Homo sapiens: one gene and its partners. Changing the gene in region 3 together with the main gene of any one other region gives a genetic interaction. Each region holds a gene or a part of one and is shown on either strand. Other genes may lie near its edges.

What was found.
Region 1: changes in WEE1 (region 3) and TOP3A are lethal when combined (synthetic lethality), as found in Homo sapiens cells (one large-scale study listed by BioGRID).
Region 2: changes in WEE1 (region 3) and DHFR are lethal when combined (synthetic lethality), as found in Homo sapiens cells (one large-scale study listed by BioGRID).
Region 4: changes in WEE1 (region 3) and XRCC3 are lethal when combined (synthetic lethality), as found in Homo sapiens cells (one large-scale study listed by BioGRID).
Region 5: changes in WEE1 (region 3) and ACACA together harm fitness more than expected from each alone (negative genetic interaction), as found in Homo sapiens cells (one large-scale study listed by BioGRID).
Region 6: changes in WEE1 (region 3) and MTOR are lethal when combined (synthetic lethality), as found in Homo sapiens cells (one large-scale study listed by BioGRID).
Region 7: changes in WEE1 (region 3) and CDC6 are lethal when combined (synthetic lethality), as found in Homo sapiens cells (one large-scale study listed by BioGRID).

What each region holds. Positions count from the first base shown.
Region 1 is NC_000017.11:18,270,928-18,273,961, reverse strand, and holds the end of TOP3A (DNA topoisomerase 3-alpha), read left to right. Parts: 3' UTR 1-2,534; downstream 2,535-3,034. UniProt on the Homo sapiens protein: Releases the supercoiling and torsional tension of DNA introduced during the DNA replication and transcription by transiently cleaving and rejoining one strand of the DNA duplex.
Region 2 is NC_000005.10:80,641,484-80,644,983, reverse strand, and holds part of DHFR (dihydrofolate reductase), read left to right. Parts: intron 1-3,500.
Region 3 is NC_000011.10:9,580,170-9,583,669, forward strand, and holds part of WEE1 (wee1-like protein kinase), read left to right. Parts: intron 1-1,362; coding exon 1,363-1,509; intron 1,510-3,500. UniProt on the Homo sapiens protein: Acts as a negative regulator of entry into mitosis (G2 to M transition) by protecting the nucleus from cytoplasmically activated cyclin B1-complexed CDK1 before the onset of mitosis by mediating phosphorylation of CDK1 on 'Tyr-15'.
Region 4 is NC_000014.9:103,708,952-103,712,451, forward strand, and holds part of XRCC3 (DNA repair protein XRCC3), read right to left. Parts: intron 2,711-3,500; exon of another isoform or gene 2,617-2,710; 5' UTR 2,515-2,616; intron 2,295-2,514; 5' UTR 2,137-2,294; coding exon 2,082-2,136; intron 1-2,081. UniProt on the Homo sapiens protein: Involved in the homologous recombination repair (HRR) pathway of double-stranded DNA, thought to repair chromosomal fragmentation, translocations and deletions. Part of the RAD51 paralog protein complex CX3 which acts in the BRCA1-BRCA2-dependent HR pathway.
Region 5 is NC_000017.11:37,086,665-37,088,836, reverse strand, and holds part of ACACA (acetyl-CoA carboxylase 1), read left to right. Parts: intron 1-1,397; coding exon 1,398-1,521; 3' UTR 1,522-2,172. UniProt on the Homo sapiens protein: Cytosolic enzyme that catalyzes the carboxylation of acetyl-CoA to malonyl-CoA, the first and rate-limiting step of de novo fatty acid biosynthesis.
Region 6 is NC_000001.11:11,126,552-11,130,051, forward strand, and holds part of MTOR (serine/threonine-protein kinase mTOR), read right to left. Parts: intron 3,288-3,500; coding exon 3,187-3,287; intron 2,401-3,186; coding exon 2,304-2,400; intron 2,002-2,303; coding exon 1,903-2,001; intron 1,576-1,902; coding exon 1,453-1,575; intron 1,256-1,452; coding exon 1,073-1,255; intron 594-1,072; coding exon 459-593; intron 246-458; coding exon 71-245; intron 1-70. UniProt on the Homo sapiens protein: Serine/threonine protein kinase which is a central regulator of cellular metabolism, growth and survival in response to hormones, growth factors, nutrients, energy and stress signals.
Region 7 is NC_000017.11:40,294,379-40,297,878, forward strand, and holds part of CDC6 (cell division control protein 6 homolog), read left to right. Parts: coding exon 1-125; intron 126-977; coding exon 978-1,078; intron 1,079-1,202; coding exon of another isoform or gene 1,203-1,322; intron 1,323-2,324; coding exon 2,325-2,389; intron 2,390-3,500. UniProt on the Homo sapiens protein: Involved in the initiation of DNA replication. Also participates in checkpoint controls that ensure DNA replication is completed before mitosis is initiated.

The DNA of each region.
Region 1 (3,034 bases), on a different chromosome or scaffold from region 3:
AAATTTAAAAATTTAAAAAAATAAAAAGAATCCAACCCCGGCAGGGCGTGGAGGCTCACACCTGTAATCCAGCACTTAGGGAGGCCAAGGCTGGAGGATTGCTTGAGATCAGGAGTTCAAGACCAGCCTGGGCAACATAGTTAGACCTTGTCTCTATTTTTAAAAATATAACAAGCACAGTTGTACACGTCTTTAGTTCAGCTGCTCAGGAGGCTGAAGTGGGAGGATCCTTTGAACCCAAGAGTTTGAGGCTGCAGCAAGCCATGATCACACCACTGCACTCCAGCCTGGGTGACAGAGTAAGACCCTGTCTCAAACTTTTTTTAAAATGAAAGAATCCAACCTTTTTTTACTCTGACCTGCGAGAGTGCAGAGGGTCTGGGGAACATTTGCAGAAGCAACAGGTACCAGCCAGTGCTGGAAGGAGCTCACCCTGGGAGGTCTCGTCAGCCTCTGTCCTTCATGGCTGTCCCTTGTGTCCCATGTGGAGAGCCCTTCCTCCCTTTCCACATGGTAAGCACTGAGCCCAATTTCTTCTCACCCCACAGATGGTCCCTCAGAGCAGAGATGTCTAATGAAAGGTTCAGATTCAGATCACTAACTTTCCATCTTCCACTTTTTCCAGTGGTGGCCATGTTCCCCCGTTTGCCTTCACAAAAACCTTGTGAATAATACAAGCCATATGGACTCTGATTTACAGTTTAGAAGATGAGCAGAGGTGGGTGTGAGTTGCCCAGTCATGTTGCTAGTTGTTGAAGAAACTAGGATTGTTCTCAGGTCTTGGGCTCCTGGCCCATAGACCAGTGGCTCTGTGTTCTGATGGGGTATTGGGGAGGATTTTTACAAATGCAGGTTCCTGAGATTGTTCCTGGAACATCTCCGAGTGGGTGTGGGTTGTGGCCCTGCGTGTGTGATTTTGCCTATCCCAGCTCCGGGGTACCACCAACCACTTTTTGTCTCTGTGGGTTTACCTACTCTGGATATTTTGTTTAAATGGAATCATACCAGGCTGGGCACAGTGGCTCACGCCTGTAATCCTAGCACTTTGGGAGGCCAAGGTGGGCAGATCACCTGAGGTCAGGAGTTCGAGACCAGCCTGACCAATATGATGAAACCCCGTCTCTAAAAAAATACAAAAATTAGCCGGGCGTGGTGTCAGGCACCTGTAATCCCAGCTACTCAGGAAGCAGAGGTTGCAGTGAGCTGAGATCGGGCCATTGCACTCCAGCCTGGGCAAAAAGAGTGAAACTCTGTCTCAAGAAAAAAAAAAAAATGAAATCCTACCATACATGACATCCTGTGTCTGGTTTCTTTGACTTGGCTGATGTTTGTCAGGCTCATCCACATTGTAGCATGTCAGTCCTCGATGTTTATGATAAGCTGATAGCCCACTGTATGAATATACCACACGATTATCCATTTGTCAGTTGATGGACATTGGGTTGTTTCCACTTTTTGGCTATTGTGAATAGCACTGTTGTGAACATTGGTGTATGAGTGTCTGATGACTTGTTTTCAGTTATTTTGGGCATATGCCGAGGAATGGAATTGTAGTTTTATACCATAACTCCATGTTTTGACTTTTTGAGGAACCTACAAATTTTCCACAGTGGATGCACCACTTTACACCCACCAGCAGCACACCAGGGTTACTGCTTCTCCATATCCTTGTGAACACTTGTTCCTTTCCTTTTCTTGTATTATAGCCATCCTAGTGTTTTGTCATCCTAGTGGGTATGAAGTGGCGTGTCATTGTGGTTTTGTTTTGCATTTTCCTAGTCATTAATGACATTGACCATCTTTCCACAGGCTTACTGGCCATTGGTATACATTCTTTGGAGAATGTCGATTTAAGTTCTTCACCCATTTTTTATTTTTTATTTTTTATTTTTTTTTGAGATGGAGTTTCGCTCTTGTGCCCAGGCTGGAGTGCAGTGGTGCGATCTTGGCTCACTGCAACCTCTGCCTCCTGGGTTCAAGCAGTTCTCCTGCCTCAGCCTCCCAAGTAGCTGGAATTACAGGCATCTGCCTCCACACCCAGCTAATTTGTTTAGTATTTTTAGTAAAGACGGGGTTTCACCATGTTGGCCAGGCTGGTCTCAAACTCGTGACCTCAGGTGATCTACCAGCCTCGGCCTCCCAAAGTGCTAGGATTAACAGGCAGGAGCCATCACACCTGGTCTCTTCCCCCATTTTTAAATTGTGTTGTCTGTCTTTGTTGTTGAGTTGTAGGAGTTCTTAATAGTTTCTGGATATCAGATGCCTTTGTGGTTTTCACATCTCTGCAGGCAACTGTGTGTCTCAAAAGCAAACTGCAGGATTGGGCTGCACCATGGACTGGGCCAGGCATCTGAGATCAGACAGACCCAGGCTCAGCTCCCACTTCCTGGCCTCTTCTGCCACCCTGGGTGTGCAGCCTCATCCTTGGAGCCCCAGTTGCCTCATCCGTAATGGGGTGTCCTTGTTCATATTGAGGCTCTCTAGTGAAGGCTTACGGTCAGGCACGACTGCAAATTAAAGCTTCACAAATCAAACCTGTTGGAATTTCTAAGTCTCTCTCGATGGCCCACTCAGGTTAGCAGCATGCAGCTCATCCTACCCCGTCAACGTTGACTGGAAGGGTTTTTAGTCCCTGTGTTGAGCCACATCTGCAGCTTGTGCAATGCAAAACCAAGGAAAAGAAAATGGACCCCCCCCGCCCCCCCCTTGATGGATCTAGCTGAGACTAGGCACTGGCCAGGCTGTCACCTACAGTGGTTTCAACCTCCTGCTGCCAGCAAGACAGCATCTCCTGTCCTTTTTGTGCAGGAACCATAGCTCTGTTGGGTTAAGTGTTTTCCTCTACCAAGCAGCTAACCTGGCCTTGAAACCTAATCTCTGATGCCATGTCCCCCCAAGCCCCATCAGAGTTTTGTAAAAAGCCCCTCCCTGCTCTCCACACCAATGCTGAGAGCCCATGGGGTAACTGGAGGCTTCCCTGCCATCTTGGCAAAGAAGCCTGGCTGACGTCCTGCACATGCTTCCCCAGGTGATT
Region 2 (3,500 bases), on a different chromosome or scaffold from region 3:
GAATGACCCACTGTCACCCAGGCCAGAGGGCAGTGGTGTGATCGCGGCTCACTGCAGCCTCCACCTCCCTGGCTCAAGCAATTCTCCTGCCTCAGCCTCCCAAGTAGCTGGGATAACAGGCATGTGCCACCATGCCCAGCTAATTTTTGTGTTTTTTAGTAGAAATGGGGTTTCTCCATGTTGGCCAGGCTGGTCTCAAACTCCTGACCTCAGGTGATCTGCCCACCTCAGCCTCCCAAAGTGCTGGGATTACAGGCGTGAGCCACCGTGTTCGGCCTACCCTGTTTTAAACCTCACCATAGTTTACTTTTCTTCTACCCTCAACTTTCTCAGAGCTTTCTTGTATTAAATAACTTTAGTATGATTAAAATAAAATTCTATACTACACTTTGGTTGTAGTCTGTCATGCCTGTGCCTTTGCACATGTTTTTATCTCCTTTGACACTCAGTTAAGGAGTCATGCCCTGAGGAGTATTCTCCCTCATCACCCCGGCCCTGCGTTCCTGTATAGCGTCCTCTGCATGTCTTCGTTGTATGTCCTTTCATACATTATAGTCACTGCTGAGATATTTCTGACTGCTATCACAATCTCTTTGAGTTCAGGGACTGCATATTTTATCTCTATCCCCAGAATCTAGCATAACCCCTAGCAAAGTAGGAATTCAAAAATCACAGAATGAATAGTACATAGGTGATTTATAAAAATAGAACCATCCCACATAGTACCACTTTGTAACCCACCTCTTTTTCCCTCAATATATTAGAAAATAAAGTCCTGTAAATATTTTTAGTGGCTGCATAGTATTCCATTATGAGGCTGGATCATACCCAATTTTTAATATGAGCATACCTCAGAGACACTGCAGGTTCAGTTCCAGACCACTGCAATAAATAAAGCATATCACAATATAGGTAGTCACATAAATTTTTTCTCAGTGCATATAAAAGTTATATTTACACTATACTGATAGTCTAATAGATGTGCAATAGTATATCTTTAAAAAATGTATGTACCTTAGTTAAAATATGACTGGAAAATGCTAACAATCATCCGAGCCTTCAGTGGGTCATAATCTTCTCACTATGGAGTGTCTTGCCTTGATATTGATGGTTGCTGACTGATAAAGGTGATGATTGCTGAAGGCTGGGGTGGCTGTGGCAATTTCTTAAAACAAGAATGAAGTTTGCCACATTGATAGACTCTTCCTTTGAAGAAAGATTTTTCTGGAGCATGTGATGCTATTTTATAGGATTTTACCCACAACAGAATTTCTTTCAAAATGGGAATCAGTCCTCTCAAACCTTGCTGTTGCTTTATTAACTTAGTTTGCATAGTATTCTAAATCTTTCGTGATCAACAATGTTCACAGCATCTTCACTGGGAGTAGATTTCATCTCAAGAAGCCAGTTTCTTTGCTCATCCATAAGAAGTAATTCCTTATCCATTGACATTTTATCATGAGATTCCAGCAATTCCATCCCATCTTCAGGCCCCACTTTTTTTTTTTTTTTTTTTGAGACGGAGTCTTGCCTGTGGCCCAGGCTGGAGTGCAGTGGCCCGATCTCAGCTCACTGCAAGCTCCGCCTCCCGGGTTCACACCGTTCTCCTGCCTCAGCCTCCCTAGTAGCTGGGACTACAGGTGCCCGCCACCACGCCTGCTAGTTTTCTGTATTTTTTAGTAGAGACAGGGTCTCACTGTGTTAGCCAGGATGGTCTCCATCTCCTGACCTCGTGATCCGTCCACCTTGGCCTCCCAAAGTGCTGGGATTACAGGCATTAGCCACCACACCCAGCCCAGGTTCCACTTCTAATTCTAGTTCTCTTGCCATTTCCACCACATCTGCAGTTATTTCCACCCCCAAAGTCTTAAACCCCTCAAAGCCATCATGAGGGTTGGAATCAACTAACTCCAAACTCCTGTTAATGTTGATATTTTGATCTCCTATGAATCATGAATGTTGTTAATGCCATCTAGAATAGTGAATCCTTTTTAGAAGGTTTTCCATTGACTTTGCCCAGATCCATCAGAGGCTATTGCAGCTACGGCCTTACAAAATGTATTTCTTAAATAGTAAGACTTGAAAGTCAAAATTACTCCTTGATCCATGGGCTGCAGAATGAGCAGGAATATTTTGAAAGGAATCTTCCTTCCTGAGAAGTAGGTCTCAACAGGAGGCTTTAAATATTTAGTGAACCATGCTATAAACAGACGTGCTGTCATCCAAACTTCGTTGTTCCATTTCTAATACACAGGCAGAGTATATTTAGCGTAATTCTTAAAGGCCCTGGGATTTTCAGAATGGTAAATGAGCATTGGCTTCCACTGAAAGTCATCAGCTTGCATTAGCTCCTAACAAGAGAATCAGCCTGTTCTTTGAAACTTTGAAACTAGGCATTGACTTCTCCTTTATAGCTATGAAGTCCTAGATGGCATCTTCCTTGAATAGCAGGCTATTTTGTCTCCACTGAAAATCTGTTCTTAGTGTAGCCACCTTCATCAATGATCTTAGCCAGATCTTCTGGATAAACTTGCTGCAGCTTCTACATTAGCACTTGCTGCTTCACCTTGCACTTTTTTCTTATGGAGACAGCTTTTTCCTTAAACGTCATGAACCAAACCCTTGCTAGTTTCAAACTTTTCTTCTATAGCTTTCTCACCTCTCTCAGCCTTTACAGAATTAAAGAGGGTTAAAGCCTTGTTCTAGATTGGGCTTTGGCATAAGGTACTGTGGCTGGTTTGATCTATCCAGACCACTCAGCTTCCTCTACATCAGCAATAAGGCTGTTTGCTTTTTTGTTTTTGTTTTTGTTTGAGACGGAGTCTCGCTCTTTCGCCCAGGCTGGAGAGTGCAGTGGCGTGATCTCAGCTCACTGCAAGCTCCACCTCCTGGGTTCACGCCATTTTCCTGCCTCAGCCCCCCAAGTAGCTGGGACTACAGGCACCTGCCACCATGCCTAGCCAGGCATACACTTTTTTGTATTTTTAGTAGAGACAGGGTTTCACTGTGTTAGCCAGGATGGTCTCGATCTCCTGACCTCGTGATCCGCCCACCTCGGCCTCCCAAAGTGCTGGGATTACAGGCGTGACCCACCGCGCCTGGCCAAGCTGTTTGCTTTCTTACCATTCACATTTTCACTGGAATAGCACTTCCAATTTCCTTCAAGAGCTTTTCTTTTGTATTTACAACTTGGCTGTTAGATGCAAGAGGCATGGCTTTTGGCCTGTCTTGGCTTTGATGTGCCTCCTTCACTAAGCATAATCATTTCTAGCTTTTGATTTTACATGAGAAATATGCGACTCTTCCTTTCACTTGTACGCTTAGAGGCCATTGTAGGGTTATTAATTGGCCTCATTTCAATATTGTTGTGTCTCAGGGAATTGGGAGGCCAGAAGAGGGGGAGAGAAACAGGAATAGCCAGTTAGTGGAGCTGTCAGAACACATAACATGTATCGATTCACCATCTTAAAAGGGCATGATTTATGGCACCCCATAACAGT
Region 3 (3,500 bases):
CAGGTATGCTCATGCATTGACAATGGGCATATATATTGGTACAGCCTTCTCTGTGGAGAAGAGTGTGTGTGTGTGTGTGTGTGTGTGTGTAAAACACACCATCTCCATATATTACAAATGTGCATACCCTTTAACCCAGCAATTTGGCTTCTAGGTGATATACTAAATGTACGTGAAATTACCAATGTACAAGGTTATTTATTAGGCCATAGTATGTAATAGCAAAGGCTTGGAAATAATTTTAAAATGTCCATCAAATGAGGGACTGATAAATGCATTTCTTTCTTTCTTTCTTTTTTTTTTTTTTTTTCGGGGGACTGAGTCTCACTCTGCCACCAGGCTGGAGTGCAATGGCCCGATATCGGCTCACTGCAACCTCCGCCTCCCAGGTTCAAGCAATTCTCCTGCCTTCTGAGTAGCTGGGATTACAGGTGCACGCCACCACACCCAGCTAATTTTTGTATTTTTAGTAGAAACGGGGTTTCGCCATGTTGGCCTGCATGGTCTCGAACTCCTGACCTCGTGATCTACCTGCCTCGGCCTCCCATAGTGCTGGGATTACAGGCGTGAGCCACTGTGCCCAGCCAATAAATGCATTTCTACTCAATTATACAATGGAATTCTATAAAGACAAGAAGAAATGGGTTGTCTTTGTATATTGGTATAGAGTGATCTTTAAGATAATGAACATATGCTGTTATTTATGCAAAAAGTTGAAAAGAATACATAGACCTGAGCTGGGCGTGGTGGCAGTGCCTGTAGTCCCAGCTGCTTGGGAGTCTGAAGCAGGGAATTTGAATTTGGGTTTGGGAATTCTAGGCTGTAGTGCCGATCTATGTTGAGCATCTATGCCGATCTATGCCGATCTAAGTTGAGCATCAGTATGGTGACCTCTGTGGAGTGGGGCACCACCAGGTTGCCTAAAGAGGGGTAAACTGGCCTAAGTTGGAAACAGCACAAGTCAAAACTCCTATGCTGATAAGTAGTGGGATCAAGCCTGTGAATAGCCACTGGATTCCAGCTGGGCAACATAGATAGACCCTGTCTCTTATAAATTAAAAACAAAAACAAACAAAAAAAAAGCCAACCTGATAATACTGGTTTACTCTGAGAAAGAAACAGGTGGATTGCTGAGGTGTATGATTGAGAGAGAGACTTTACATTTTATTTTGTACCCATGCAAATGTATTACCTATTGAAAAAACAATAAAATTTTGATTTCACAAGCAGGTTGAAGGGAGAAGGTCCTATAAAATAACACTTTCTTGGTTGAGATTGGTTGGTTGAGACTCATTTGGTAAAGATGGAAGAAAGAAAATATTTCAGAAAGAAGAAAATGCTAATATTTTCTATCTTTGTTAGGTGGAAGTTTAGCTGATGCTATAAGTGAAAACTACAGAATCATGAGTTACTTTAAAGAAGCAGAGTTGAAGGATCTCCTTTTGCAAGTTGGCCGAGGCTTGAGGTATATTCATTCAATGTCTTTGGTTCACATGGATATAAAACCTAGTAAGTATTGCAGATCTTCTGACCTGTGTTCTTTGGGGTTATAGAGAATAAATTACTTCATTATGACAACATTGAAAAAATATATATCTTCTGTTTTCTCATTGTTAGTTTTAAAAGGCCTTAGATCCACTTACCAATATTGTTTTATGATTTCTATTCATCTCTTCCCTTGTTAATCCCCAAAATTTGAGATAAACTTTTTTGAGACAGTGTCTCATTCTGTGGCCCAGGCCGGAATGCAGTGGCACCATCTCCGCTCACTGCAACTTCCCCATCCCGTGCTCAAGCAGTCATCCCACCTCAGTCTTCCGAGTAGCCGGGACTATAGGCATGTGCCACCATGCCCAGATAAATTCATTTTTATTAAAAGCCAGAAATTTTTGCTGCATCTTACAGGAACTACAGGTGGGATACTAATGAGGGCACTAAAAATCTGTGTTTAAAGCCCCACTCTTCCACTAGGCCAGACCATATTAAAATTTCCCCAGTTGACTCAAGTCCTTAATAGTTGATTTGTTCAAATTAGTATCTACTTAAGGATCATGCATTGCATCTGGTTATATCAGTTTTTCTTTTTCAGAACCCATCCTCTGCTTTGTAAAAATAATATACACTTATCTTGCAAGCTATCCCTTTTTCTGGATTTGACTAGTTGCTTCTTGTATCATTTAGCTTGTTCCTTTTTCTCCTATATTTCCTATAAATTGGAAGTTATAACTAAGGATTATGGATTCAAGTTAAGCATCTTAGGCTAGATGAATTTAGTGAGGTTTTATTAATCTTTGGAAACCTGTTGATTTGTGAGAATTTCAGTCATTTTGTACAACTTTATGAGTTATATGCTAGAATTTCATATGCGTATGTTAACAAGTCACTAAAGTTTCTTCTTTCTTTTTTTCTTTTTTTGAGATGGAGTCTCGCTCTGTTGCCCAGGCTGGAGTGCAGTGGCACAGTCTCAGCTCTCTGTAACCTCTGCCTCCCACGTTCAAGCGATTCTCCTGCCTCCGCCTCCCGAGTAGCTGGGATTACAGGCATACACCACCATGCCCGGCTAATTTTTTGTATTTTTAGTAGAGACGGGTTTCACCATGTTGGCTAAGCTGGTCTTGAACTATTGACCTTGTGATCTGCCCACCATGGCCTCCCAAAGTGCTGAGATTACAGGCGTAAGCCACCGTGCCCAGCATGTTTTTTATTTTCAAAAGACAAAAATATATTTGGATTTAAGGCAGTAAATGTGAATTCTTAAGGAATAGCTGTACTCATATAAAGTGTTAGACAAATATAATAGACCCTTATAAGGTATAAAAGTTGAAAATATTAAGGGATGTGAAGTTTAAAAATCTTCAAATTTAGACCAGGTGCAGTGGCTGACGCCTGTAATCCCAGCACTCTGGCAGGCCAAGGCAGGCAGATCACGAGGCAGGAGTTCGAGACCAGCCTGGCCAATATGATGAAACCCCGTCTCTACTAAAATTACAAAAATTAGCCAGGTGTAGTGGTGCGCACCTATAGTCCTAGTTACTCGGGAGGCTGAGGCAGAAGAATTGCTTGAACCCGGGAGGCGGAGGTTGCAGTGAGCCGAGATTGCACCATTGCACTCCATCCTAGGCAACAAAGTGAGACTCCGTCTCAAAAAAAGAAAAAAAAAATTCGCCGGGCGTGGTGCCTCACGCCTGTAATCCCAGCACTTTGGGAGGCTGAGGCGGGTGGATTGCCTAAGCTTGGGAGTTCACCACCAGCCTGGACAACACGGTGAAACCTCGTCTCTACTAAAATACAAAAAATTAGCTGGGTGTGGTGGCAGGCACCTGTAGTCCCAGCTACTCTGGAGGCTGAGGCAGGAGAATTGCTTGAACCCGGGAGGAGGAAGTTGAAGTGAGCTGAGATCGCACCACTGCACTCCAGCCTGGGCGACAGAGCGAGACTGTCTCAAAAAAAAAAAAAAAAAACCTTCCAATTTACAAATACCATCACAAAATAAGTTGTCC
Region 4 (3,500 bases), on a different chromosome or scaffold from region 3:
GGTGCTGAGAGCAGGTTCCGGTACTGAGAAGAAACGACAGGCACCCAGTTCCATGCCAGCTGGAGACAGTGCTCCAGAAGGGGGCAGGAAAAAACCAGCACCGAGCTTTCCACCACCCGCCCACCAGGCATGGATCTGGGCTGAGCCGCGGGAGAGGACATGTGCCCTGGGGAGGGGAGCGCTGGGAGGGTAGCAGAGCCCAGGTCCAAACGCCAGCTGCGCAGGGCAGTCAGGGCAGGGGGCAGAGCATGTGCGAATCAGAACGGCGGTGGCAGCAGTTACAGGGGTGCAGATCCCCAGGACCTGCCATCTGGGGAGGAGGGCAAGGAAGTTAATTTTGGACTCAGATAAGTGCATCACTTTCTAATTTCAAACTTGTAGAAAGACGACAAATGCTGCAGACTGATCAGCCGATCAGGGAAGTGCGAGGAAGCGCACACGAGAGGGAGCAGTGGTGGACGAAGCGCCCCACCCGGCCACGGGGACTTACACCCACCACATCAGAAACCCCCTCAACACGGGTGCGCTGAACGCTGCAGTGAAAAGACAACCATTGTGCGGCTGGAAAACAGTAAGCACTGGTGTGATCTTCAGAAAAGCCACACAGAAAACACAAGGAGATGGAAGGGTGGGAATGAAGAAAGCGCCCCTGGGTTTCACCAGATCCAGCGGAGGGGGCTTCCCGCAGACAGGCTGCTCCAGAAGGCTCTGTGGGCCCTGAGGACTCACCGGGATCGGGGCTGTGGCAGGGCGCTCCCCCTGGTAAGCCTCACAGCCCCAGCCCCCTTCACAGCCGTGAAGTCTGCAGGGACTTCTGGAAACATTGGTTTTTGGATAAGAGACACAGGTGAGAAAGGAACTCCCTGGCTGAGCCCTTCTCTGTCCCTGGTCTGCAAGCGTCGTGTCTGCAGCTGTGGCAGCAGCTGTGATCACAAGGCCACCAACAGGAGGATAAAAACCAACAGCCAAGGATGGAGGGTCAGGACAGCGAGGCCCTGCCCTGTCACCAGGCTGCTGCGGCAGCTCCATGAGCACTCCGGCTTCTCGCCACAGACAGCGTGCTGAGGTTCACGTAGCTGAGGCCCGGGGAGACGGGGGAGGATGGAAGCTGGCAGGAGGGTCCCCGGATGACAGCCAGGCGGCTGGCATGGGGAGCAGGGGGCAGGGGCTGCACGTGGGGCCTGAGTTTTGAGCATTTACTAACTCGGGCGAAAAAAGATGCTGTAAGAAAGAAAACCATCCCCTGCACCACCACACCAGGTTCAACAATGGCCAGTATGCACCCAGTCACAACCCTGACAGCTGATGTCACCCAAACTAGGTTCTAAGTATGGGCAGGGAGCTGGGGGGAGAGGAAGTTGGGGTACACAGGTGTAGGCACGCTCAGTCCTCACAGCCCCCAAGAGAAGTCCATGGATAATCAGTAACACTGACAAATCAAACATTACAACATAAACACGTTTAGGAGCCCAGATGTAAATATTTTTTAAAAAAATAACTAAAAGACGGCCGGGTGCGGTGGCTCATGCCTGTAATCCCAGCACTTTGGGAGGCTGAGGCGGGCGGATCACGAGGTCAGGAGATCAAGACCATCCTGGCTAAAACAGTGAAACCCTGTCTCTACTAAATTTACAAAAAAATTAGCCGGGCGTGGTGACTGGCGCCTGTAGTCCCAGCTACTCGGGAGGCTGAGGCAGGAGAATGGTGTGAACCCCGGGAGGCGGAGCTTGCACTGAGCTGAGATCGCACCACTGCACTCAAGCCTGGGTGACAGAGCGAGACCCCGTCTCCAAAAAAAAAAAACTAAAAGACTTTATGTGGCTCCATTTTACCTTTTAGACAATATGCATGTATTACTTTGATAAAAATAAAAGTAACTGAAAGAAATCCATGTAGTTAAGAACACACACACACACACACACACACACACACCTGAAAATCCCATAGTACATCCCGCCCTCGGTTTAATAATCAGGGTAGGCAAAGGAAGGAAGGCTTAGCCAGCCAGCGTTTTGTTAACCTGCCTTATATAAACTGCACACACCCACCCACACCCTTTATGTAAATAGAAATAAATGTACCTTTCTTAATTGCAGCAATAATTCTGGGATTCAGGTCCAGTAGATCCAAATCCATTTTGTCGGTGGGCTGGCCACCAGGATGAATAACTTCCCAGGAAAGACAGAACAATGGATGCAAATTCTGAGGCACTCGCCTTCAATTCAAAGCCTGTGGGAGGCCCGAACCAGGGAAGTGACAGCAGCCGAGGTGTCCGTGTCATCGGGGCTCTGTCACTGAGGGTGGAGGAGACTTCACTGTAGAGGGAAGGCTGTCTAGCTACATCTAGGGCAACATGTCTGTCATTTACCTCTAAGAATTATTTAGCAGCTTAGAACCCATTCCAGACACTGATGCATTTGAAAAACCCCCCAAACCCACCACATTTACCTCCTGTGGAAAGTGCTAGAAATAAGACCATCCTCCTGCAGCAGTTGAGTGCCCTGCCCGACTCACCTCTCTGGGGCTTGGGGATGACCCGCGTGTTTTTGGCTGACTTGACTGAGGCATCTCTTGCACTCTGCAGTTTAATTTCCCTTAAGTGTCTCCCTGGGGACTCTGGAAAGAGTGGGAAGGTGAGTCTGGGATTGGCAGGGTGCTCAGGGATCCAAACATCAGTCGCCCCCAGCAGCCAACAGCAGAAGACAGCTTCCTGTGGGACGGGAGGAAGGTGCTGTGGACCCCACCCAGCCTCTCCCAGGAAGGGAGCTGGCAGCCATTCCACAGCCCGAGCCTGGCCCAGCAAGGGAGAAGCTCAGCTCTTCTCCCCTCCGGCCTCAGCAGGCTGCTCAGGGACTCAGCCTGGGGTCACATAAGGCCTTTCCAACAGGCCACTCTGCATCCCCTGTCGGCCTCCCAAATGGTGAGACCAAGAGTGTCCAGGACATGGGGAAACTGGAAGGCAGCAGCCTCGAGGGCCGGGTCCAGGATCCATGTCCTCCAGTGAGGCCTGGCGCCCTTGGCCGTAACCCAGCAGAGGAAAGGGCGGGCCGTGGACTTGGAGAAGGTTTTCCCTTGGACCACACAGAATGCGGCACTGGCCTGGACACGATCACGCTGGTCACTCGTATGCCCATGTTCAGCCTGCTCAGGGAGACAGGAACAGACTACAGGAGCAGCAGGCTGAGGCACGCCCCCAGGCACCCCGTGAGGCGGGCAGGGCAGGGAAGCTGGTGCTCCAGGATGCGTTTCCTGCCCGCGCACCAGGCTTGGCTCCCGGGCCCCCACAGCCTGTGGGTTTTCTGAGCAAGGGACAGGGAGGTGCCCAGGCCTGGTTGCCCAGGCAGGCCTGACAGGAACTGGCGAGAAGCCACCCTGGAGGGCCGGGCGCAGGCCAAGGCAGGGCGGTGGGGCGCTGAACCAGCTCCAAACTGCTGGCAGAGCTGGCCAGAGTGAGGAAGTGAGGTTCCCAAGCACAGAAGGCAAATCAAAAAGGAATGCCA
Region 5 (2,172 bases), on a different chromosome or scaffold from region 3:
CTCTGCAGTCTCTTGCTGTTTGAGACAGCTGTAGTTGACCCACAGGTACAGATATGGCCTGAAGCCCAATTCTTTTTCAGCTACTGCTCCCCAGGGGCACTTAGTAATCTCAGCTAGATGAAGGCTTAATTCACTGTGCCCACCTCTTAGCTCTGAATGCTGATACTCAAACCGGATGAACAACTCTGGGAGGAAAGCTGATTGTGTGTGTGGTGGTTTCCTGGGAAACCACCTCCTCACCTCCTGAAGCCAAGAGTTAGCTGTATTCTTCTAGAGGCTTCAGTCTGCTCCATAGGATCGGTGGTAGAGACTGCAGGGGCATTTTTGTAAAAGTTTATTTGGAAACATTTCACTTACAGAAAAGTTATAAAATTAAAAACAGTACAAAGAACACCCCTATATATAATATCTGTACTCAGATTTACCTGTTACATTTTCTCCCCGTTGCTATATCACTTATGAGTGTGCCTGCCCTCCCATATGTGTATACATTTTTCCTCTTTCTGAACTACTTAAGGGTGTTACATATATCATGGCCTTTACCCCCAAATATTTCAGTGTGCATTTGCTGAGAATAGGGATACTTTTACATAACCATCATAAAATGATCCACTTTTGTAAATTTAACATTGATTAAAAACTTTTATCTGATATCTACCATCTGTAGAACATTGCTCATTTTGAGTTTGTCTGATGTCTCCCCATGATGAGATGCAGGTGAGGCACTCTGGCCAGAACCTTCACAGGGCACCACATCTGGGGGCACATGCTGTTTATCTGCTCCTCCTCGTGTTAATTTCATCCGCTGGTCAAGATGTTGCTCCATTTCTCTACCGTATAATTACTGATTTTCCCCCCTTGCACCTAATAAGTAGTCTGCAGGAAGACATTTTAAGGCCATGCAAGTATCTTGCTTTCATCAAAATTTCCCTCTGGTGCAGTCTTTACGATGAGCTTGCAAAATGATAACTTTCCAACTCCAGCACACCCTCCACAATTACCAGTCACCACTCAGTCCTCACTCCTGCCGATTCTTTTATATATACATTATTGGTACAGACTCATGAAGTTCTATTTTTTACTGATTTATAATTCATTGCTGGGCTGCTTTTGATGCCCCAATTGCTGTCTTTGTGACATGCCCCCATTGGCATGTTTTGGGTTTTTTTTGGGTTTTGTTTTGGGTTTAATTCCTTTTTCAACATAGCAAAATGTTTTGGGTTTGTCTTGCACTACCTTGGCTGGATATTTGTAATATAGGGAAACAAATAAGGTGAGGCGTGACTAAAATGTCTGCAGTGGACGGTGCACACATGTTTATTGGGCAGTTCTTTAGCTGTCCTCATCTAGACACTTCTGCTTCTCTTTTCTTCACCATTCTCAATCTTCCTTTCCAGCTTGGTCCAGGCCAATCCAGAGGTTGCCATGGATTCCATCATCCATATGACGCAGCACATATCACCCACTCAGCGAGCAGAAGTCATACGGATCCTCTCCACAATGGATTCCCCTTCCACGTAGGAAGAGCTTCCTGCCTGTCCCTGCCCTGTCTCTGGAGAAAAGGGCTAGAGCTGCCTTTTACAACTGTAACCACTGTAATGAGAAGGCACAGGAGACCCAGCACTGGAGTCAAATGGCATTTTACTTCCTCTCGTTTCAGGTTATGCATGACATCCTGGGATGTAAGATCACAGAATCCCCCTCCAGCCCACCAGTCACACCTACCCCATTCAGTATTTATTACCCTGGCCAGGCCTAGTCCTCCACTCCCTGCACAGGACTGAGAAGGCAATGAAAGGTACAAACATGTACCATGAGGTCTTACTAACCAAAGTAGGGCTGCCCCTCCTGTCCTGACAGCCCCTTGGCCTCCCAGCATGGGGAAGCGTGAGGAGTTGCCCAGCAGTGAGCAGCCCCCCTCACTCCTGGCCCCATGAGCCGCAGCCACAGGCAGCAGAGGAGGGCTAAGGAGAGGAGGAAGCCTCAAGTCCATTGTTTATTACCCCGACTCTTAGCCCAGCACACAGTAGGCACTGGAGAGGAATGATTCCCAGTTTAACCACACTACGGTACCTTTTATGAAGAAAAATTAGAGCATAAAATCTACTACAAGCTCCATAGGAACTCAAAGATGAGGGCAAAACTGTGAGCCAAGAAGCAGAGAAAGAAAAT
Region 6 (3,500 bases), on a different chromosome or scaffold from region 3:
AGAAGAGGGAAGGGGTCTCAGCCAGTGTAGGAGGGAGAAGTGGGTGACAGAAGTGCACAATGGTCCTTACCCATAAGTGTCAATTTCCGGGGCCTCTGCTTGGATGTGATGACTTGCAAAGACGGTGCTATGGACTGAATGCGAATGATTGGCTGGTTGGGGTCATATGTTCCTGGCACAGCCAATTCAAGGTCCCGGCACATCAGAAGTTTTGGGGAAACATATTGCAGCTCTAAGGATGTGAGCTGTAAATAATTACCAAAGGATTTAGTGTTCTGCCTCCAGGGAAGAATTTAAACGCAATTTAAGTATTTTTCAGTGGATTGCTAATAACAATTACTTGTCCCAAAGCAGAAGTAAAACCAGATGCTTTGGAATGAGTGTTAGAACATTCATAGACAGTAAAACAGAAAGGACTATAATGACAGTTAACCCTGCCAGGAGCCTGAAGATCCTACCTGAGGCAGCTGCTTTGAGATTCGTCGGAACACATGATAATAGAGGTCCCAGGCTTGGGTGAGGTCCTTGACATTCCCTGATTTCATGTACTTCCTGCACCACTCTTGGGCCTCCATTAAATCTCGACCATAGGCCTGAGAGAGAAAGCAGGCACGTTTTCAAGTTATCAAAGTCTCAACCAACCCAGGAGGCAAAATCCCCAGGCTGACTGCAGATATTCCTCAGGAGCCCGCTGTGGCCTGAAAACACTGGCAGGGGGCTGGAGAAAGCAAGAGCATAGGTGCAGGCCTCCAACCCTGGAGCTTCCAAACCAGCAGCATGGCTTATAGGGAAGGAAGGGTGAGAGGAGAGACGAGATGACCTCTTGAGAAATCTTGGGCTTTTCCAGTTAAAATTCAGAAGGGTCCCTGTAACTAATTTCTGATGTTTTATGCTCTGTGACCTCCATCAGAGCTCGTTTTATTAAAGTCAGTGGAAAGGCCAGAGGAAAAGAAATCTGACAAAGGCCTTGGGTCACGTCCTTTCATTCTATAAAAACTTTTCTCATTTCATTTTTTTTTAGTGGCAGAATATTTCTACAGGGTTATGTCCTTTCGTGTTTTTTACCCCATACCTGATTAAAGGATGTTTCCTTCAGAGTCTGGGGGCCCCGTTCCATCATAGCATGCAAGGGCTCCAGCACCTCAAACATGCCTTTCACGTTCCTTTCCCCAAAGTACAAACGAGATGCCTCTTCCAGGCCTTCATGCCACATCTCATGCCAGAGGATGGCCACTCGGATCAGCTCCTCGCTCACCTGAAGCCAAGAGAAGAAGGAGAGAAGCATCAAGAATCAGCTAACCTCAGAAAGGTCTGTTTTGGAGACACAGGAGGTACTATTTCCAGCAGTCAGAGGAAGTGCACAGCACCAATGCGAGGAAGAAAAACAATCCCACTTGCGCCCACCAGCTAAGGGACCAGGGTCTATGAAGCCCCACAGTGGCTCCGACCCACCATCATGGCCTGCTGGACCAGGGTGTTGCTGTGCTCACACATGTTCTTCAGAATCTTGTTGGCTGCATTGTGCCGGGCTGTCGTGGTAGACTTAGAAGCCACTGTCAGTGGGTAGATGAGGGCCTGAGGGAAAAACAGAAGAAACATCTATAAAGGAAATGTGGGTTGGGGAAGAGCTGGTATGAATTTTAAGGAGAATAACAAAACAAGTGGTGAGTGTGACATTAACATCTGCTTGAGACTACCAGGAAGGGGCTCAGTCTTCGAGGGAACGCTTTCTTTTTAGCAAGGCTCCCGGGCCCTCTGGGACGGCTGGCTGGACAGACCCTCCTGGGCCAGGATGGAACACATGGCTCCCAGTTCCTGCGCTTGTGTCGCCAGGGCAGCTTTTGGAAAGGCTGACCACCAAACCAGTGGTTAGATGAGAAACTGCCCAGAGTCTCCACATACCTGGGGGTGGTACCGACCAATGTCTGTGAGAAGCTGGTGAATGAGACGTCCCACCAAGGGTCTGGGCGTATCAATTCTTGCAATGAGCTGAGGTATAACCTGGTATTCAAAAAGACACAGTATGTAGCATATGAGACTTGAAACAACTAGTTATTCTTCTAGGCAAAGATCAATTCTTTTAACTTGTTTCGGTTGATGCTCTGAAATGGTTCATTCCCTTCCCTTTAGTTTCTAAAAGAAAATAAAGAAAATATGGACACTTGACACTGGGACCGAGCCCTACTTCCTTAGCACTGTATTAACACACACTGCCTTGTGACACTGAACACAGCATGCTTGTAAGAGGAGACACACAGAAGAGAGACTTGGAGCCACCTTCACCTGTAACCAAGTATCCTCACCTGTAGCCAGGTATCAATCTGGATGGCTTTCACCCCCTCCACTAAGGCCTCATTGACATCTGGCCAGTGACCATAATCAAACCATAAGGTGAGAACTCTGAAAAAGAAATGAGAAAGTCACAGAAAATTTAGTTTCCCAGTTTTTGCCTGCCTGTTTTTCATCTCTAAGGCTCCTGAGAAGAGAGCTGGCAGGGACTCCAACCAGTAACTCTCAAATGTGTTTGGCCTCCCATGGGAGCAGGTGTCTGTGATGGGTGGCAGTGCTCTTGACTGAACACCGTAAGAGTCACCCTGAGCAAATGAGCATTTCATCCCAGGTCACCGAGGGGTCACCATGGCATGTATGCAAACATCAAACAGACGAGCCAGGATAACCTTTAGAAAGCCACAAGTCTGCACATGTAAGAGTCGCTGTACGGCAGAGGCAACAGGGACACCTGGCTCTTAGCTGGCTGGAGATCCTCAAATGAAGGAGGATGTGGACCTTGTCACCTTTACCCTCTGGGTTAACTGATTTGAGTCATTTGTTTAGACCTCTCCAAGTTGCTGAGGGATTTTAGAAATACTGTGACTTCAATAGGCAACAGGGTGGTCAGAAAAAAAGAAATATTGTGATTAACAGATGGGTTAATAATCCCTCCATAATAAACCACACATGGAGAGTTCTCACTCCACTTCTCCTCCTCACTCTCTGTAGGTTTCACCCACACAGGTGGGGCCCAGTCAGCTGTTACTCCTTAAATGCAGTGCAGAAAAAAGGCACATACATCGATCTTGGGTGTCCTGATCAGGGTCAGGAAGGGAAAGAGGACTTTTACGTGTGACTTCTAGGTCTTGCCATTAACATGGCCTACCAGAGTTGCATCCTTCCCTTCTCTGATACCTGAGTGTATCCTGGAGGTTGTTGCCTCGTGACAAGGAGATGGAACGGAAGAAGCCCTGGACGGCAGGCACCGTGTACATCAGGAGGGTTTTGGACAGATCCTGTTGGAACACACACGTGTTAGCGACACTCTTGCCTCTGCTTTCTCATCTGTAAAATGGGCATAAGAGCATACTAACTGTACCTACTTCAAAGGGTGGTTATAACAATTAAATCGGTTAATGCATGAAAAATCTTTAATCATTACCTGGCACATAGCAAAGACTCAATAAATGGCAACTGTATCATAACTGTTATTATCTTGGGCTGACAGT
Region 7 (3,500 bases), on a different chromosome or scaffold from region 3:
TGGATCTCACAGATAGAATTCTACCTAGGCTTCAAGCTAGAGAAAAATGTAAGCCACAGCTGTTGAACTTCCCACCTTATACCAGAAATCAGATAGTCACTATTTTGCAAGATCGACTTAATCAGGTCAGTGCCAACTATTTTGCCAAATTATGTGTTCCTTGGATCACCTGTGCTAGGAAAATTTAACAATAGTTCTAAAATATTTTTGCCTTGATTGCTTTATTAATGGAGCAAGGAGTTCCTATGGACCATAGTGAGAACATTTTTATGTGAATTTCAGCTTCATTCATTTACTGGGTGTCTCAGTGTTGAAATAAAAGCAGGAGTTAGAGGAATCACCCAAGCGCTTTTTTTTTTTTTTTTAGATGAGTTTTGCTCTTATCGCCCAGGCTGGAGTGCAATGGCGTGATCTCGGCTCTCTACAGCCTCTGCCTCACGGGTTCAAGCGATTCTCCTGCCTCAGCCTCCCCAGTAGCTAGGACTACAGGCACCTGCCACCACGCCCAGCTAATTGTTGTATTTTTAGTAGAGCTGGGGTTTCACCGTCTTGGCCAGGCTGGTCTCGAACTCCTAACCTCAGGTGATATGCCTGTCTCGGCCTCTCAAAGTGCTGGGATTACAGGCATGAGCCATCGCACCCAGCCTCAAGTGCTTTCTTTAATGACCTTTAAAAAATAGGGCCTATGAAAAAACTTTTTCTGTTGAAAATGACTAAATAGATTTTTTATTTTTGCTAATTTCAGTTCTGATTGCTTTTTTCCATTTATGAACTTCTACTGCATCCGTACAAAAAGCTTAAATGTGTGAAAACTCTCAAACGTCTCCATTATTTATGAGAAGAAAAGGCATCTTTTTAACCCTAAAGAGTTGCCAATCAAGTTTAGGGTTAAATGTGAAAATATTTATGCTTGGGACCTAAATTACAGAGGGAGAATCTTATGGTTCAAACTGTCATCTTCTATGTCTTGTCTGAAGGTATCTAGAGATCAGGTTCTGGACAATGCTGCAGTTCAATTCTGTGCCCGCAAAGTCTCTGCTGTTTCAGGAGATGTTCGCAAAGCACTGGATGTTTGCAGGTGAGTTACGGCTCTGTTGCATTCTTTTATTAAAAAAAAAAAAAAAGAAATGCTGTTAATTGTCTCATGTAACTCAAGTGAATGTGGCTTAAGAGGCTCTGTTCTGCTACTTTTTTACGCTCAGAAAGGAGGACTTGTTTCTCAGTGGGGAGCTCTGGATTTCCACCGTGTTAATGTCTGAAACATTATCAGTCCATTACCTACAGAGGGAGAAACAAATGAGATGTTGCTGGCACTCCCTGTGGTGATTATAGATTGGTTAATTACATTTGTATTAAAAAAGACTCCAGTTTACTTTTCCATTAGCTGGTCTCAAGCAGGTTTATTTATGGACCTGAACCGTCTTTGCCTTTAGACTTGTTCCCCTTCCTTTCCTTTTGTGAGCACCCCTTCTTCCCTTCAGTTGGTGGTCCCCCACAGTTGTACTCCAGACCTCTTTCTCCCTTCCCATCCTCCTGCCCCTCCTGCTGGGGAAAGCCTCTGTGCCGACTGATGAAATTTCTTCCTTCCCAGTAGGGACACTGGGTCCATTAAAATGATACTTGCTGTGCTGGCCTGCTGGTCCAACCTCCCCCTATTGCTATGCAGAAGACCCAGGTCTGGCTTATGGCTTCCTGTGGGCAAGTACTTTGGAGAGAGCAGTGGGAGAGTAAGCTCTTCCTATTGCTAGATTGCATGATCCTGAATTTGAAAGTTTCCCCTAATCAGCAAACTACTTGGGTAAAGACTGCAACTATGAGCAATAGTCATGTAGGCTAGCGTGGTTTAGCCTACACATATCCTATGTATATATAACTGAAGATATCCCTTTTAGGTTTGGTGTGTATGGGTGATGCTGACTCCCTTTAGTCAGTCACCCACACTACATATCCTCTCTCCTACCCATGACATTTTCTCCTCATCCAAAATGTTATCATTGGCTTAATGTATGATGACCTACTTGGCATCCATTAGGAGGAAACCATTGAAGTTTCTCAAATCTGATGTCCATGAATTATTTCAAAGCAATTAAGTCCCCTTATCTGAGAAATAACCCAGTTTTGTTTGGGGGCTTTAAAATTATAAAACATCATAATTTTAAAGTTACACGTAGGATATGTGTAGGCTAAACCATGTTAGCCTACATGACCATTGTTCATAGTTGCAGTCTTTGAGCAATGGTCATTAATGTGCCGCTTTTGAGGCTGGTGGTTTGGTGTGTTTGGTTTGGCTCAGACTAAATTAATTTTAGAAATTTTTTTTATAGGAGAGCTATTGAAATTGTAGAGTCAGATGTCAAAAGCCAGACTATTCTCAAACCACTGTCTGAATGTAAGTAGTTTATCTCCTTCCTGTCTTCCTTTGTAACTAGAAGCTTAGCTTTTCTGAGGAAAGAGGTAGAAAGATGAAATGAACATAGTTAAATCCAAACTCACCCATTTTTATGTGTGTCTGTGTTTTTAGTCCGTTTCGTCTACTTTATTTCAATCTTGCCTGCCAGTACTATAGTTCGTGCATTACTGGAAATGAGTTCCCAGGGTATTGATTGCGTAAATGGCTGGGACAGAGTAAGTTTTTTTTCCAAGCTCTGGAAATGAAACTTGTAGACAATGAGGTTGGATCAGCTCTCTGGGTGCTTATGTTGCGTGCACTTTAGGTCTCAATATAGGTGAAAGCAAAGCCTGATAAATAAGGGAGAATTGGGTAAAAGAATTGTGAAGCCAGGTGCGGTGGTTCACACCTGTAATCCCAGCACTTTGGGAGGCCAAGGCGGGAGGATCGCTTGAGCCCAGGATTGTGAGACCAGCCTGGGCAATATAGTGAGACCTTGTTTCTACAAAAAATTTTAAAAATTTTGCAGCCATTAAAAATATGAGTTCATATCCTTTTTAGGGACATGGATTAAGCTGGAAACCATCATTCTCAGCAAAGTAACACAGGAACAGAAAACCAAACACCACATGTTCTCACTCATAAGTGGGAGTTGAACAATGAGAACACATGGACACAGGGAGGGGAACATCACACACCGGAGGCTGTTGGGGGTGGAGGCCAAAGGGAGGGAGAGCATGCAGGACTTAAAACCTAGATGACAGGTTGATGAGTGCAGCAAGCCACCATGGCACATGTATACCTATGTAACAAACCTGCATGTTCTGCACATGTATCCCAGAACTTAAAAAAAATTAGGCAAGCATGGTGTGTGCCTGTAGTCCTAGCTACTTGGCAGGCTGAGGCAGGAGAATCACTTGAGCTGGAGAGGCAGAAGTTGCAGTGAGCCGAGATGGTGCCACTGCACTGCCAGCCTGGGCAACAGAGCGAGACCCTGTCCCAAAAGAATAATAATAAGAAGAATTATAAGTTCAACTTGGGATATCTCAAGCTTTTAAACAAGTCTAGAGGGTAGAGGTAAAAAGATCATACTGCTACAGTAAGCTGCATG